Linked DNA regions of Homo sapiens: region 1 is linked to region 2. The links come from fine-mapping of genetic effects on plasma protein levels. A gene starts in region 2. The other region holds a variant in brackets. All regions are shown on one strand. Distances are from middle to middle. Region 1 overlaps EFHD1 (EF-hand domain family member D1). Region 2 holds the start of EFHD1 (EF-hand domain family member D1).

Evidence for each region. PIP is the posterior inclusion probability: the model's chance that the variant is causal. The UK Biobank Pharma Proteomics Project read protein levels with antibody pairs (Olink). The fine-mapping took linkage between variants from a reference panel, not from the people measured, so its PIPs are less certain.
Region 1: its variant is fine-mapped to the plasma level of the EFHD1 protein (UK Biobank, PIP above 0.99).

What each region holds. Positions count from the first base shown.
Region 1 is chr2:232,652,532-232,660,531 of GRCh38, forward strand. All of the region lies in intron 1 of EFHD1 (EF-hand domain family member D1), which reads left to right. Among named protein-coding and RNA genes, the nearest start is that of EFHD1, 23 kb to the left of the region's middle. The variant C/T (reference allele first, on the strand shown) is at 3,338.
Region 2 is chr2:232,630,493-232,638,492 of GRCh38, forward strand. It overlaps EFHD1 (EF-hand domain family member D1), which reads left to right and starts at 3,112. Exons shown (of 4, transcript NM_025202.4): 1 at 3,112-3,514. The coding sequence starts at 3,213. RefSeq lists silencers at 3,150-3,209, 3,287-3,581.

The sequences.
Region 1 (8,000 bases), 22 kb after region 2:
CACAGTACTGCTGTGTTCAGTGAGGTAATTTAGGACAGTGCCTGGCACTTCTAAGCTCTCAGGCAACCATAAAGGCAGGCGGCTGTGATTAATTCTTCACAGGACTGTTGTGAAGATCAAAAGGATCAGTACATGAGACAATGCCTCGTGAACTGCAAAGCCGACCAGTTTTAGTTACTACATGTTTGGAACCCTGCTGTGTGCAGTTCCCTAGGTAGACATCAGGCATTTTGAGAGAAGCAGATAGAATAGTGAGATGATGAAGATGTGAGGTTTTTCCTGCCTGTCTTGCAAATCCAGGCCCTAAAGGAAGTGACTAGACAAACCCTCCAAGGGTCACTTTGAAGAGAGAAAGATAGGTTTCTGGTGTATATATCCTGGCTCCATAGGAGAGGGGGTGCCACTGATGTTGTAGCTTTATTATTTTTTTTCTTTTTATTATACTTTTTGTTTGGTGGGGTGGTTGGTTTTTTCTTTTTTTGAGACGGAGTTTCACACTTTGCCCAGGCTAGAGTGAAGTGGTGTAATCTCGGCTCACTGCAACCTCTGTCCCCTGGGTTCAAGAGTTTCTTCTGCCTCAGCCTCCTGAGTAGCTAGGATTATAGCCACCCACCACCACGCCCGGCTAATTTTTGTATTTTTATTAGAGACAGGGTTTTGCCATGTTGGCCAGCTGGTCTCAAACTCCTGACCTCAGGTGATCCACCCGCCTAGGCCTCCCAAAATGCTAGGATTACAGGCATGAGCCACTGTGCCCAGCTGGTTTTTTCTTTTTTCAAGATGGAGTCTCACTCTGTCGCCCAGGCTGGAGTGCAGTGGCATGATCTTGGCTCACCACAACCTCCACCTCCCAGGTTCAAGCAATTCTGCTGCCTCAGCCTCTCAAGTAGCTGGGATTACAGGCACGCGCCACCAGGTCCAGCTAATTTTTGTATTTTTCGTAGAGATGGGGATTCACCACGTTGGCCAGGTGGTCTTCAACTCCTGACCTCAAGTGATCCGCCCACCTCGGCCTCCCAAAGTGCTGGGATTACGGGCATGAGCCACCGCTCCCGGCCTGTGGTAGCTTTAGAGTCCTGCCAGGACTTAAATAAAGGGAACTTGGCTGATGCTTCCAGCAGGAACAAAAGAAAGCAGCCCTGACTGAGCAGCTGGGATTGAAGGGGGTGGTTGGCTCAGGATTCCTTTCTCTCCTGCCCTTCTCCCCTCCACATTACATGGTCATATCTCCACACTCACTTTATTCCTGTACCCAGCTGGTGGCTCTCAGCAGAACACCAATGGCCCTTTTCCTTCTATGGGACTTGCCCACTGGGCTAGTGGGCTTCTGTTTCCCAGCACATTCTCTCCAAAGGAATTGAACCAAATTTTCTTGCCCATTTAAAGAAGTTGGGGCCAGGCCCGGTGGCTCAGGCCTGTAATCCCAGCACTTTGGGAGACCGAGGCAGGCAGATCACCTGAGGTCAGGAGTTCGAGACCAGCCTGACCAACATGGAGAAACCCTGTCTCTACTAAAAATACAGAAATTAGGTGGGTGTGGTGGTGGGCACCTGTAATCCCAGCTACTCGGGAGGCTGATGCATGAGAATCACTTGAACCCGGGAGGCAGAAGTTGCAGTGAGCTGAGATCGCACCACTGCACTCCAGCCTGGGCGACAGAGCGAGACTCCATCTCAAAAAAAAAAAAAAAAGAAAAGAAAGAAGTTGGAATTCCTTCAATATTTCCTAAGCTTGCCAAGGTCTTTTCTGACATATTTGACCTTTTTTGTTAGGCCTGGAGAACGTTGCAGGCTTTGGGGCCTGAAAGGAAGGTTTCCCAAGTCTTCTAGACTCCTCTCAGTTCGAACCCCAGAGGTAAAAGGATGACTTTTCTTTTCTTTCTTTCTTTTTTTTTTTTTTTTTTTTTTGAGACAGAGTCTCACTCTGTCACCCAGGGTGGAGTGCAGTGGCACAATCTTGGCTCACTGCTACCTCCACCTTCTGGGTTCAAGCAATTCTCCTGCCTCAGCCTCCTGAGTAGCTGGGATTACAGGTGTGGGTATCCGCCACCCCACCAGGCTAGTTTTTTGTATTTTTAGTAGAGACAGGGTTTCGCCATGTTGGCCAGGCTGGTCTTGAGCTCCTGACCTCAGTTGACCCTCCCATCTCAGCCTCCCAAAGTGCTGGGATTACAGGCGTGAGCCACCGTGCCCTGCCAGAGGATGGCTTTTCTCATCCCCCTCCCTGTGTTGGGGAGAGCCTCTTGTCCCTCACATGTGACAGCCCCTCTGTGTCTGCGGGAGGCTGCGCTAGCTCCGGCTTATGTGGGCTGGGAAGCCGTCTCCCTGGTGCTTCCTCTCCCAGCTGAGGACAGATTCCTGCCTATTCCCTGACCTTTACTTATCCTCCCATCTGCCTAGTCAGTTTGTCTCCTGTTCCTGGGCGCTGCTGTCTCCTTACACCCAGGCTTTTCAGTTCCTCCCTTACTCGCTTCACTCTCCTTCCTTTCTGCTCACTCTTTGTTCATGTCCCAAATGATTGGCGTGTCATATGCACCACATTGATCACTTCAGCCTGTTCTGCGAATTCTGTTGGAACACGCTATGTGTGCTGGGCAGTGAGCGGTGGGCAGAAGACATTTATCCAGACTCTTGGCACTGAAGGCACCTTAGTGGTCATGTTTTTCTTTTTTAAGAGATAGATCTCACTGTGTTGCCCAGGCTGGACTTGACCTGCTGGGCTCAAGCAGTCCTCCTGCCTCAGCCTCTGGAGTAGCTAGGATTACAGGTTCAAGCCACTGTACCTGCCCTTAGTGGTCATTTAACTGGGCCACCCCTTCTAAGGCTGACTTGACCAGAGAAGTGCTTCTCAGAGGGTTTCCTTGAAAAACCGCATTGCCAAGGTACGTCTTCTCAACAGAAAATCCCCAAATGCAGAGGACTGTGTGGTCAGATGAGTCTGTGTGCTCTGTTTCCCTCTTGTAAGTTTTGGACACATACGGAAGGCTCTGGAAAGTTCCACACTGAACCTGTTAACTTTGACTGGGACTCCGTGTAACAGAGACTGTCCCTCCCAGCCGGTTTGTGCAAGCTCTCTTTACTTCTCAGGTCTAGTTCCAGTTGGCCGTTTTGCCAGAAGGCACTTCCTTGCACTTAGCTAAAGTCTGTCTCACCCATTTCCATGCACAGAGCCCAGTTCTGGCAGCCTTTGGGCCCCTGGGCAACATCTGAAGGCAGCTCTTTGCCAGATCCCACTTGTTCCTTCCACCCCTGTCCTGTCCTTGTGTGGGGTCTTTTTTTTTTTTTTTTTTTTTTGAGTCGGAATCTTGCTCTGTCACCCAGGCTGGAGTGCAGTGGCA[C/T]GACCTCGGCTTACTGCAAGCTCCGCCTCCTGGGTTCACGCCATTCTCCTGCCTCAGCTTCCCGAGTAGCTGGGACTACAGGCGCCTGCCACCATGCCCGGCTCTTTTTTTGTATTTTTAGTAGAGATGGGGTTTCACTGTGTTAGCCAGGATGGTCTTGATCTCCTGACCGCGTGATCCACCCACCTCGGCCTCCCAAAGTGCTGGGATTACAGGCGTGAGCCACCGTGCCCGGCCTGTGTGGGGTCTTAAGTCCATTCGTCTTCTTGGCTGCTTCCCACTGACCAGGCCCATGGCCTCCCTGAAGTGTGAGGTCTGTGTGGAGTGGGGCAGACCATGATGAGGTGGGTAGGACTGTGGCCCTTGCATTCAGGATTCAGGACTTTTTGTACTTGCCACTATGATTTATTTCGCCCATGAGTTTTCTGGCAGCCTCCCTGACTCACTGTAGGGTCCCAGTCCCCTGAAGGTGTGGTCACAGTTGCAAGTGAGCGCCATTTCTCTCAAAACCTGTGCTGGGAAAGTCAGTCTGTGGGGGTCTTAGTTTTAGGACCTTGCTTTTTTTTTTTTTTTTTAATTGTTTTGGGACAGAGTCTCACTCTGTCACCCAGGCTGGAGTGCAGTTGTATGAGCACAGCTCATTGCAGCCTCGACCTCCCAGGCTTGAAATGATCCCCCTGCCTCAGCCTTCTGAGGAGCTGGAACCACAGGCACATGCCACTATGCCTTGCTAATTTTTTTATATTTTTGAAGAGACAGGGTCTCACTATGTTGCCCAGGCTTGTCTTGAACTCCTGGGCTCAAACAGTCCTCCCACCTCAGCCTCCCAAAGTGCTGGGATTGGAGGCATGCACCACTGCTCCCAGCCAGTACCTTGCATTTTTTAAAAATTGTGGTGAGATATACATAATGTGAAATTTAGCAGTTTTGTTTTGTTTGAGACAGGGTCGCATGCTGTCACCTAGGCTGGAGTGATCACAGCTCACTGTAGCCTCAAACTCTTGTGCTCAAGTGATCCTCCCCCTTCAGCCTCCCGAGTAGCTGGGACCGCAGATGTGGGCCACCACATTCAGGTACTTTCTTAATTTTTTTGTAGAGATGGGGTCTTGTTTTGTTGCCCAGGCTGGTCTGAAACTCCTAGGCTCAAGTGATTCTCCTGCCTGGGCCTGCCAGAGTGCTGGGATAACAGGCAAGCCTGACTGCACCCAGCAAAATTCACCATTTTTAACCATTTTTAAGTATAGAGTTCAGTGGCAACAACATTGACATTATTATGCAACCATCACTGTCATCCATTTCCAGAATGTCTTCACCCTCCTAAACTGAAACTCTGTCCCCATTCAACACTAACTCCCCATTCACCTCCCCAGCCCTTGACAGTCACCATTCTACTTCTGTCTCGATGATTTTGACTACTCTAGGGACCTGATAAGTGAATTCATACAATGAGGTGCCCTTTTTGCGACTGGCTTATTTCACTTGGCACAATGTCTTCAAGGTTCACCCATGTTGTAGCCTGTGAGCATGGGTCAGAGTTCACTTCCCTTTCATTGCTGAATGAAATTCCATTGTTTGTATAGATCACATTTTGTCAATGGGCATTTGAGTTGTTTCTACCTTTTGGTGACTGTGAATAATGCTGCTAAGAATACTAGTGTCAGCCAGGCATGGTGGCTCACGCCTGTAATCCCTGCATTTTGGGAGACCGAGGCAGGCGGATCACCTGAGGTCAGGAGTTCGAGACCCACCTGGCCAACATGATGAAACCCTGTCTCTACTAAAAATACAAAAAATTAGCCGGCCATGGTGGTGGGCGCCTGTAATCCCAGCTACTCGGGAGGCCTGAGGCAGGAGAATCACTTGAACCCGGGAGGTGGAGGTTGCAGTGAGCTGAGATCGCACCACTGCACTCCAGCCTGGGCAACAAGAATGAAACTCCATCTCAAAAAAAAAAAAAGAATACTAGTGTCCAGACTCCATTGGATCCTATGGTAATTCTTTGTTTAGGACCTTGCATTTTTCTTTCTTTTCTTTTTTTTTTTTTTTTTTTGAGACTGAGTTTCACTCTGTCACTCAGGCTGGAGTGCAGTGGTGCGATCTCGGCTCACTGCAACCTCTGCCTCCCAGGTTCAACAGATTCTTCTGCCTCAGCCTCCTGAGTAGCTGAGATTACAGGCATGCGCCACCATGCCTGGCTAATTTTTTTGTATTTTTAGTAGAGACGGGGTTTCACCATGTTGGTCAGGCTGGTCTCGAACTCCTGACCTCAGATGATCCACCCACCTCGGCCTCACAAAGTGCTGGGATTATAGGCATGAGCCACTGCACCCAGCCAGGACCTTGCATTTTTCTTTGCTATATTTTATCTGTGGACATCACACCAGCTTGCTGAGATCTTTTGGGCCTAGATTCTGCCCCAACTTTGTGTCACCAGCGAATCTGAGAGTCAGCACCCTTTCCAGGTGGCTTTAACTAACAGCCAGTCCGCCTAATTGTATCCATACTTCTCTTCCCCATAAGAGCCTGCCTGCTAGAGGGCGTTGCTCACCCTGAGTGGTAACATCAGGTCAGCTGTGGTTTTCTGTTAGATCAACTTGACAGTAACGTTTCACAACTAAATAAGCATGTGACCCAGCATCCAATCTTGGGTATATACACGAAAAAATGGAAATATATGTCCAAACACTTGTATATGAACGTTCAAAGCAACACTATTCATAAGAGCCAAAAGGTGGAAACAACAAAATGTCCATCACCTGATGAGTGAAGAAACGAAGTGTGGTATATTGATACAGTGGAATATTGTTGGGCTACAAAATGTCCACAAGAGGCAAATCCATACAGACAGAAAGGCTAGTAGTTGCTGGGGGATAGGGGTGGCAAGGGGAGAGTGGGGAATGACTGCTAATGGGTATCAGTTTCTTTTTAGGGTGAGGCAAACGTTCTGGAATTACATGGTAATGATGTTGGCACAACCTGAATATACTAAAAATTAATGCACTGTACAGTGAATTTTATGGTATGTTAATTATATCTCAGTAAAGCTGTTTTTTAAAAAAAACTTAGAAAACAGGGAAGTGAGGTCCATCCTCAAGTCATTTTCAGTGAACCCATGGAAATTGTTGCTTCCCTTCTTAAAGTGCTCACAAACCGTCCTCTGGCAACACTAGATCCTGGGCTGGTGCATCTGTGATTCACATACTCTGCCCACTTCTGGGAAACCCAGAAGCACCTTGCTTGTTTCCAGATCTGGAACACCTGTCTCATCCTTCACGGTTCCTCAAAGCTCACCAACAGCCACCCAGCGATCTTGTCTGTGTCCTTTAGTGCTTTGCAATGTAGCTCTGCCAGCAAGGAGGCTGCACTGAGCACAGAGCTGCTTGAGTAAGAAGTAGCCAGCATACTGTTAAAGTGAGGGCACTGAGAAAAAAAAAAACACAAGAAATAAAAATAGAAGCACCCACCAGAGGAAGGTGGTGAATGCTAAGTCCCGGAGAAGGATGGACAGTGGGTGCTATTGGAGAGCTGTGGGGGAAGCAGGTGGCTCCCTGAGCTCCTGGGCACAGGAGGACCATAGAGGAGGGCAGGGAGGGGGTGGCTGGGTGAGAGGAATGGCACAAGTTGGCCACTGTGGCTGGAAGGGAGCCTGTCAGGGATTCCTGGGCCTCCTCTCCAGCCTGACCTTGGGAGCCTTAACTACTGCCAGTCCACAGCACTAGATTCCTAGGTGCCCACAGGCTACATTTCTTGGCAGGTAGTGGTTGTTCTCAATAATGGTGGGTTTTTGTTACTGAGGCTGTGTTGGGGAGAATGCAGACGGGTAATGAGTGGATGAGTCAGTTCTCAAACAGCAATAAAGAAAAACCTGAGACTAACTAATTTATAAGAAAAGTGGCTTAATTGGCTCATGCACAGTTCTGCAGGCTGTACCGGAAGCATGGCAGCGTGTGCTTGGCTTCTGGGGAGGCCTCAGGAAACTTACAACCATGGCAGAAGGTGAAGGGGGAGCAGTACTTCACATGGCCGGAACAGGAGCAAGACAGAGCAAGCGGGGAAGTGCTGCACACTTTTGAACAACCAGGTCTTGCAAGAACTCACTCACTATCACAAGAATGGCACCAAGGGGATGGTGCAGAACCATTTGTGAGAAATCCACCCCCATGATCCAACCGCCTCCCACTAAGTCCCACCTCCAACACTGGGGACTACAGTTCGACATGAGATTTGGTGGGGATGCAGATCCAAACCAGATCAGTGAGGAAGCCTGATTTACTTATTTTAATTTTTAAATTTGTGTTATTTATTTATTTTATTTTATTTTATTTATTTATTTATTTTTTTTTTGAGGCGGAATCTTGCTCTGTCACCCAGGCTGGAGTGCAGTGGCACGACCTCGGCTTACTGCAAGCTCCGCCTCCTGGGTTCATGCCATTCTCCTGCCTCAGCCTCCCAAGTAGCTGGGACTACAGGTGCCTGCCACCACGCCCGGCTCATTTTTTGTATTTTTAGTAGAGATGGGATTTCACCGTGTTAGCCAGGATGGTCTCGATCTTGTTCTCCTGACCTCGTGATCCACCCGCCTTGGCCTCCCAAAGTATTGGGATTACAGGTGTGAGCCACTGCGCCAGGCCTCTTTATTTTTTTAAGAGATGGGGTCTCACTA
Region 2 (8,000 bases):
CACAGCCCTCAATCTTTGCCCCTTGCAGATGATGTGCCTTTTGAGAGGCACCAGGTGACTGCTCACAGTATGCAAGCGCATTATCTAAAAGCACTCCCTCATTTGGAAACACTTCAATGAAAAAGTGAAATTTTGTTCACAATCCACTCCCATTAATTTCAGAATTTTCAAGGCTGGGCACCGTGGCTCACCCCTGTAATCCCAGCACTTTGGGAGGCCTAGGCAAATAGGATCAATTGAGCCCAGGAGTTCAAGACCTGCCTGGGCAACATAGAGAGATCTCATCTCTATTAAAAAAAAAAAAAAAAGAAAGAAAGAAAAGAAAAAAAGTCATTTTTAATTTAAAAAATTTTCAACATTATATTCATAAATAAAAAGAGCTGTTAGATTTTTTTAACACTAACTGTTGTAAATTTCAGCATGTAAAAAATGGTTTAAAAATTCTATTACTGGCCGGGCACAGTAGCTCATGCCTGTAATCCTAGCACTTTGGGAAGCCAAGACAGGTGGATTCCTTGGGGCCAGGAGTTCAAAACCAGCCTGGCCAACATGGTGAAACCCCGTCTCTACTAAAAATATAAAATATTAGCTGGGCTTGGTGGTGGGTGCCTGTAATCCCAGCTACTTGGGAGGCTGAGGCAGGTGAATCGCTTGAACCTGGGAGGCAGAGGTTGCAGTGAGCCGAGATCGCACCACTGCACTTCAGCCTGGGCAACAAGAGCAAAACTCCGTCTTAAAAAAAAAATTGTATTACCTACTCATGCAAAGTTTCTCTCTCTCTCTCTCTCTTTCTTTCTCTCTCTCTCTCTCTGTCTCTCTCTCTCTCTCAGACAGGTCTTACTCTACCACCCAGGCTAGAGTGCAGTGGCATGATCATGGCTCACTGCAGCCTCCACCTCCCGGGCCCAAGTGATCCCAAATAGCTGGGACTACAGGTGCATACTACCACACCTGGCTAGTTGTTTTTTATTTTATTTTTATTTTTTATTTTATCTTTTTTTGTACACAAGGTTTTGCCATGTTGCCCAAGCTGGTCTCAAACTCCTGGGCTCAAGTGATGCGTCTGCCTCTGCCTCCCAAAGTGCTGGGATTACAGGTGTGAGCCACCGCGCCCAGCCCCAGAGTTTCTTGTTGATGGAGACTATTAAGAATTTTGAACTTTTTCTTTCTTGAGGAGAGCTCGATGGAATAAGAACATTAAAAAAAAAAAAAAACAAAAACAAAACCAGCTGGGTGTGGTGGCTCATGCCTGTAATCCCAGCACTTCGGGAGGCCGAGGTGGGAGGATCGTCTGAGGCTAGGAGTTCACAACCAGCCTAGCCAACATGGAGAAACCCTGTCTCTACTAAAAATACAAAAAATTAGCCAGGTGCAGTGGTGGGCGCCTGTAATCCCAGCTACTCAGGAGGCTGAGGCAGGGGAATCACTTGAACCCAGGAGGCAGGGACTGCAGTGAGCCGAGATCATGCCATTGCACTCCAGCCTGGGAAACAAGAATGAAACTCCATCTCAAAAAAAAAAAAAGTTTTTAAAATATAAAATTAAAAAAAGTTTAATTACACAAAATTTTTGACCTTATTTCTCTGAAATGTGTCACATAAAGTGGTCAAAACAGATGTGACAACAAAGCCAACCTTCTAGTCACCACCACCAGGTCAGGAAGTGTAGCGCCCCGTGATCTATTTGCAGGGTTGCCATTGTATATGTAAAACCCGTATTCTCTGTACCAAGTCAAGTTGTTCAGTAGGAATGTTAAAGATTTTTATACTTTTCTTTAAAAAACGTATTTTCCTTTATAACTTTTTAAAAATAACATTTTAACCCAGGTCCCCCGCATGCCCTGCACTCGCATGCCAAAGGCTGGTCCCTGGGTCTCAGACAACCATAGTCCAGCGGGGTCACTGACCTGCCCCAGTCATCAGCCCATGGTGGGTCAGAGCAGCGTCGTTCTCAAGTGGGGACAGACCCGTGTTTACAAGATTCTCAACGCCTGGCTGATGTAACAGCGGCATCAGCCTTCCTTGGGGAGAATGACGACTGTATTTGTTTTTACCCTCTTGTTAAAAATGCTGATTTAATTTTCAAGCTTCTTTTCCTTCTTTCCTTTCTTTTTTCCTCCCCCTCTCCCTCCTTCTTCTTCGTTTATTTTTAGAGCCAGGGTCTCACTCTGTCGCCCAGGCTGGAGTGCAGTGGCCTGACCATGGCTCGTTGCAGCCTCGACCTCCCGGGCTCAAGCCATCCTCCTACTTCAGCCTCCTGAGTAGCTGGGACTACAGACGAGCGCCACTATGCCTGGCTGATTTTTTAAAAGTTTTTGTAGAGACAGTCTAACTATGTTGCCCAGTCTGGTCTCGAACTCCTGGGCTCAAAAGATCCTGCCACCAACACCTAAGTGTTGGGATTGCGGATGTGAGTCTCCGCGCCAGGTTTCTTCTCTTTTCTTGTGCGTTTCACGCAAAAAAACCCGAGTCCCTGAAGCTACGCTGCTTTCCTGCCTCTAGGGAAAACGGGAGTTTTTTCTGCTCGTTTGCTCTCTCTCTTTTTTGTTTGCTTATTTGTTTTTAGTATTTTTAGCATGTTTTGGAAACATTTCGTTCCAATGAGTGTTTGAAAAGCAGCTCCCCCGCCCCACGCTCCGGGCGGGCGCCTCCCACTCCCTGACCCCGGGGAGGGTGGGCACCACTCCCAGACGCGGGGGACGCGTGGGTGTCGCTCGGGGGCGCTCGCCTCCCCCACCCAGCCTGTCCCGGGCCGCGAGCGCTTCCAGTCGGGTTACTTCTGGGGGACAAGAAAGGCACCGTCTGAACGGTCGAGACGCTTTTTCCCGCTACGGTTTTCCCCGGAGCTGACAGGGGCAGCAAGGTCGGAGTTGATCCGAGGGTCCCTGCCTGGTCCCGGGGGGACGGTCAGCCTCCCGCCCGGAGCCGCGGGGAGAGGAAGCAGGTCGGGGTCTCCGGGACGCGCAGACACCCAGACACCGGCGGCCTCCTCCCACCAGGCTGGCAGTCGCTGAGCCCTGGCGCCTCCTTAAAGCCGCAGCTCCGCCCCGACCGCCCCGCCCGCCAGTCCGTCCTCAGACCCTCCCAACCGCCGGGTCCCCGCCGCCTCGGCGGAGTGTTGTAGAGCCTCGAGCCTGCGAGGAGCGCGCCGCCCGCCAGCTCCCTGCGTCCCGTCCCGCGTCCCCGCGTTCCCGCGTCCTGCGATCCGCCGCCATGGCCAGTGAGGAGCTGGCGTGCAAGCTGGAGCGCCGGCTGCGGCGCGAGGAGGCCGAGGAGAGTGGCCCCCAGCTGGCTCCCCTCGGCGCCCCAGCCCCGGAGCCCAAGCCCGAGCCCGAGCCTCCCGCCCGTGCGCCCACGGCCAGCGCCGACGCGGAGCTGAGCGCCCAGCTGAGCCGGCGGCTGGACATCAACGAGGGCGCTGCGCGGCCCCGGCGCTGCAGGGTCTTCAACCCCTACACGGAGTTCCCGGAGTTCAGCCGCCGCCTCATCAAGGACCTGGAGAGCATGTTCAAACTGTGAGCTCCCGCTGCGCGCCCTTCGCCCCCGGGACCAGGGAGGGAGCGGGAGGGCTTTCTGGTCCGAAGTCCCGGGCCCTGTTTGTGTGGGGAGGGGTCCCGGGGTGCAGGTAGCATTTGGCCCAACGCAGCCAGATCTTGCGTGCTCGGGTCTATCTCGGCGCGGTGGGGGACGGGGCCGAAGAGGGGGGACACCAGGAGCAGGAGCTCTCCGGGACGGAGCCCAAAAGTTCTCGGCGGCTGCCGGGCCCGAGTTCCAGGTCCCCCAACCCCGACCACTGGTCCCGCCCCCTCCGCCCGCCAGTCCGGAGATTTGCTCCGAAAGCAACTTCTAGGAAAGGGAGCCGTCGCCGCGCCTCACCTGCCAGCTTTCACTGTATCCCCCCAAGGGAAAAATTAGCCCCTGTTGGCCTTTTATCTTTTAAAACAAAAGGGGAAAGTTAATCCTTGGCTGCAGCGCGGGGTCTGATGAATGAGCGGAGGCCGAGAACGGGGAGTTTGGTAAAGTCGTTGTAAGAGATTCAGGACTTTCCTGGAGCAGGCGCGGCCCGGGAGCCTCCTGGGGGCGCGGGGAGGGGGGGCGGTTGTGGGAACCGAACTTGGCCGCTGGCACCGGTCCGGCGGGGGCTCGTTGCGGTCCTGCTCTGTGAGCCCCAGTGCGCGGGGAGCCGCTCACCTGGGGAGACACTGAGCCAGAGGCAGGCGATAGAGACCCACTAGTCCACCTCGTCGCCTGGAACCTCCGGGGATCTCAGTTTCCTCATCTGGAGAGTGGGAGCAGTAACAGTCCCTGCCTTTTAAGGCCGAAAAGTATTTTGCACCCGGTAAGCTCTTAACCGAGCTATTAATATTTCCAGAATTGAGCCGAGACCGGAAAAATGCCTGGGGGAGCTGAGGCCGCCGGCCAGGTCATGCTTGGGCGTTTTTAAAAGCGCATGGAATGTGTTTGCCCTCCGCGTGGAGGTTCTATTTAAAGGCGCTGTGACTGGCGCTGCGTCGCCTGAGCCTCCGCTGCCCCTGCATGGAGGTTTGCAGAGCCGGCACTTGGGAGCCTCCGCCTCCTCTGCCTCCCTGACACCCTGGTTTCTTTGTCTGGCTTCCAGGCACTGATCTGTGGCGTTTTCTGGGTCTAGTTTGGGCAGTTCAGGAAGGCCCAGTGCGCTAAAGAATGCGGCTGGGGCGAAAATGGAAAAGCAATGGGTGAGGCAAGGTTTGTTGGAGCCCTTTGATTTCTCTGGGGTAATGCCTTTCATGGGAAGACTGCCCTGGCCGGGCTGCTCCCAGACCCCACCAGTTCCTCCCAGTCCAGCTGGATTCAGGGGATCTTGGGGAGGGACCTTTATCTTCAAGTTTTCTTGTGGCCACTCAGGCTTCTTTTGTTTTTCCTATAAAACAATCTTTGGAAAGATCAACTTGTAGTTGACTACCTAAGAGTGATAAAAAGAGTCCATATGCTCAGAGGGTCTTGGGAGACGAAGCAAGGTGGCATCTGTGAGCAAACAGGTACTGGACCAGGATCACGCAAAGGGGAGCCGGGCACAGTGGCTTACGGCTGTAATCCCAGCACTCTGGGAGGACGAGGCAGGCGGATCACCTGGGGTCAGGAGTTCAAGACCAGCCTGGCCAACATGGTGAAACCCCATCTCTACTAAAAATCCAAGAATTAGCCGGGAGTGGTGGCGCGGGCCTGTAGTCCCAGCTACTCGGGAGGCTGAGGTGGGAGAATTGCTTGAACCTGGGAGGCAAAGGTTGCAGTGAGCAGAGATCACACCATTGCACTCCAGCCAGGGTGACAGAGGGAGATTCTGTCTCAAGGGGAAAAAAAAAAAGCCAAGGGGAAGGCAGTGTGTGGCCTGGGATCCCAGCAGAGCTAACAGTTCAACCAGTACTTGGTATTTCTTTCTAGGTTGAGTTTTCTGTCACTTGCAACCAAAATTGGCATAAACAAAACGAGAATAATTTGGCTGAGGAAACCAAAAAGCCATCACTAGCTTCAGGTGTGGCTGGATCTAGGCGCTTAGGTGCTGCCATCAGTGCTTAGTTTCTCTTTTTGTTAAGCCACCTTCCTCTCTGCGTTGTCCCCGTTCTCAGATGGCTCATCCTTGGTGGTGGTGGTATGGCCACAACAGCTTAAATTAATAACATAAGAATGTTAAAAACACTAAAGAAAATGTAACACACCAATTTGTTTTCTATTGGATTACCTTCCAGATTTTACTCATGGCAGCAGCAGTCTTGTGAGGCTGTGAAGAGTGAGCACTTGGAGGCAGGCTTCCTGGGTTCAAACCCCAGCCCCACCACTTGCTCCCTGGAAGGTTCCTTGGGCAGCTTATTTAAAAGCTCTGTGCCATCAGTTTTCCCTTCTGTCAAATGGGAAAGCACAGGACCTGCCATGTGGGGTTATTGTGGGGATTAAATTAATTCATGTATGTGATGCATTTAGCTCCATGTTTCAGCCTATGGTGAAGGCCAGGTGGATTTTAGCCCCTAATTTTTAGATTATCACATATCCATAATTTGGGTAAATGTGCACATTTGGCTGGGTGTGGTGGCTCACACCTGTAATCGCAGCACTTTGGGAGGCTGAGGCAGGCGGATCATGAGGTCAGGAGTTCGAGGCCAGCCTGATCAACGTGGTGAAACCCCGTCTCTACTAAAAATACAAAAATTAGCCAGGCATGGTGCCACACGCCTGTAATCCAGCTACTCAGGAGGCTGAGGCAGGAGAATCGCTTGAACCTGGGAGGTGGAGGTTGCAGTGAGCCGAGATCACGCCATTGCACTCTAGCCTGGGCAACAGAGTGCGACTCCGTCTCAAAAAAATAAAAAAAGTACACATTTTGTGTTGTCCTTTTTTGTTTAATAATTCACTTTGCTGAGTCCACTTTATCTTTTGAACCTGATTTAGCCCACAGTTTGAGCTGTGGAGTGGTGACCTGGCCTCTTGGTGAGTTCCGGGTCCCCGTGGGACTGTGTGCTTTGCCCTTCCGGGTTCTGCGGAAGGAACTCGTTAGCTCCTCTGCTGCTGGGTGAGGTCGTTTGTTTCTTAGAGCTGCCTGAATGAAATGCCACAAAGTGGGTAGCATAAAACAACAGAAGTATATCCTCTCATAGTTCTGGAAATCAGAAGTCTGACAAGTCTGAAACCAACGTGTCAGCCGGGCTGTGCTGCCCTTGAGGCGCCAGCGAAGACTCCTTCTGTGCCTGTTTCCTGGCTTCTGGTGGTTGCCAGAATTCTTGGTATTTCTTGTGGTATGGGCGCATCACCGTAATCTCTGCCACCCTGAGCACCTGGTGCTCTCCCTGTGTGTGTTTCTGTGTCTTCACATGGCCTTCCTTTTTTTTTTTTTTTTTTGAGATGGAGTCTCACTCCATTGCCCAGGCTGGAGTGCAGTGGTGCGATCTTGGCTCGCTGCAAGCTCCACCTCTTGGGTTCATGCCATTCTCTTGCCTCAGCCTCCCGAGTAGCTAGGACTACAGGCGCGCACCACCATGCCCAGGTAATTTTTGTATTTTTAGTAGAGATGGGGTTTCACCATGTTGGCCAGGCTGGTCTTGAACCCCTGACCTCAAATGATCCACCCGCCTCAGCCTCCCAAAACGCTGGGATTACAGGCGTGAGCCACCGCGCCTGGCTTAAGAATTTCACTTTTAAGCAGTTTCTAGATTCATGTTCTGATGTCGCCTTAGTTCGTTGGGCCCCTTGCAGTATATAACCTGATTAGACCAGTACAAAGTACACCCTGTCTTTTTGTTTGGGGCTAGAAAGATTCATACAGATACTGGGAGACATGCTTTGATCGTTTAAATTTGATTTTCCTATTTAAAAGTATTTGGCTTAGGGATTTCTTACATTTTCAAGGCTTAAAAAAACTGGATCCTTCCCAGCCTCTGAGTTTGTTGGGTGCTTGGAGTGGTGTCCTTTGTGAGTCCTTAGGACCTAACAAATGAGGCTGGCTCCTAAATGGTGTGTTGTAGAAGAAAGAGTGTTTTCTAATGAGTGTGGGAAGCCAGAGGCACCATCAGCCCGGCCAGAGAAAGTTCCCTCTCCATTTCCAAGCCTGTTACTGGATAGCCTGAGCCAAGAGAATAGTGGCCTGATTTTAAAAGAATGAGAAGGCCCAGAAGAAACTGACTCTACAGCGTGTATCCGTGGCTGTAACGTGAGCTGGTGGAGCAGTCAAGGTTAGACAGGAAATTTTAATTACCCTGGACTTATCTGGAGGCCTCTTTCAAAGGGAGGCAATGAGGGCAGCCACTTAAAGGCAGGACCCCAATGCAACATCTTAAAATGCAGCCGCAAGGTTTTTGCAGCATACTAAAAGCTTGTGTTTTAATTCCCCAAAGAGAGGGTGGGAAGAGGAACATTTGGCTATGGGAAAGTTGTCTTTTTCTTAAGAATCTGAAACGGTGATGTCATGGATGTCCTGCCAGTGCCAGAGTCCCGCGTTACCAAGACACCAGTGAAACCCAAAAAGGTGAGGCT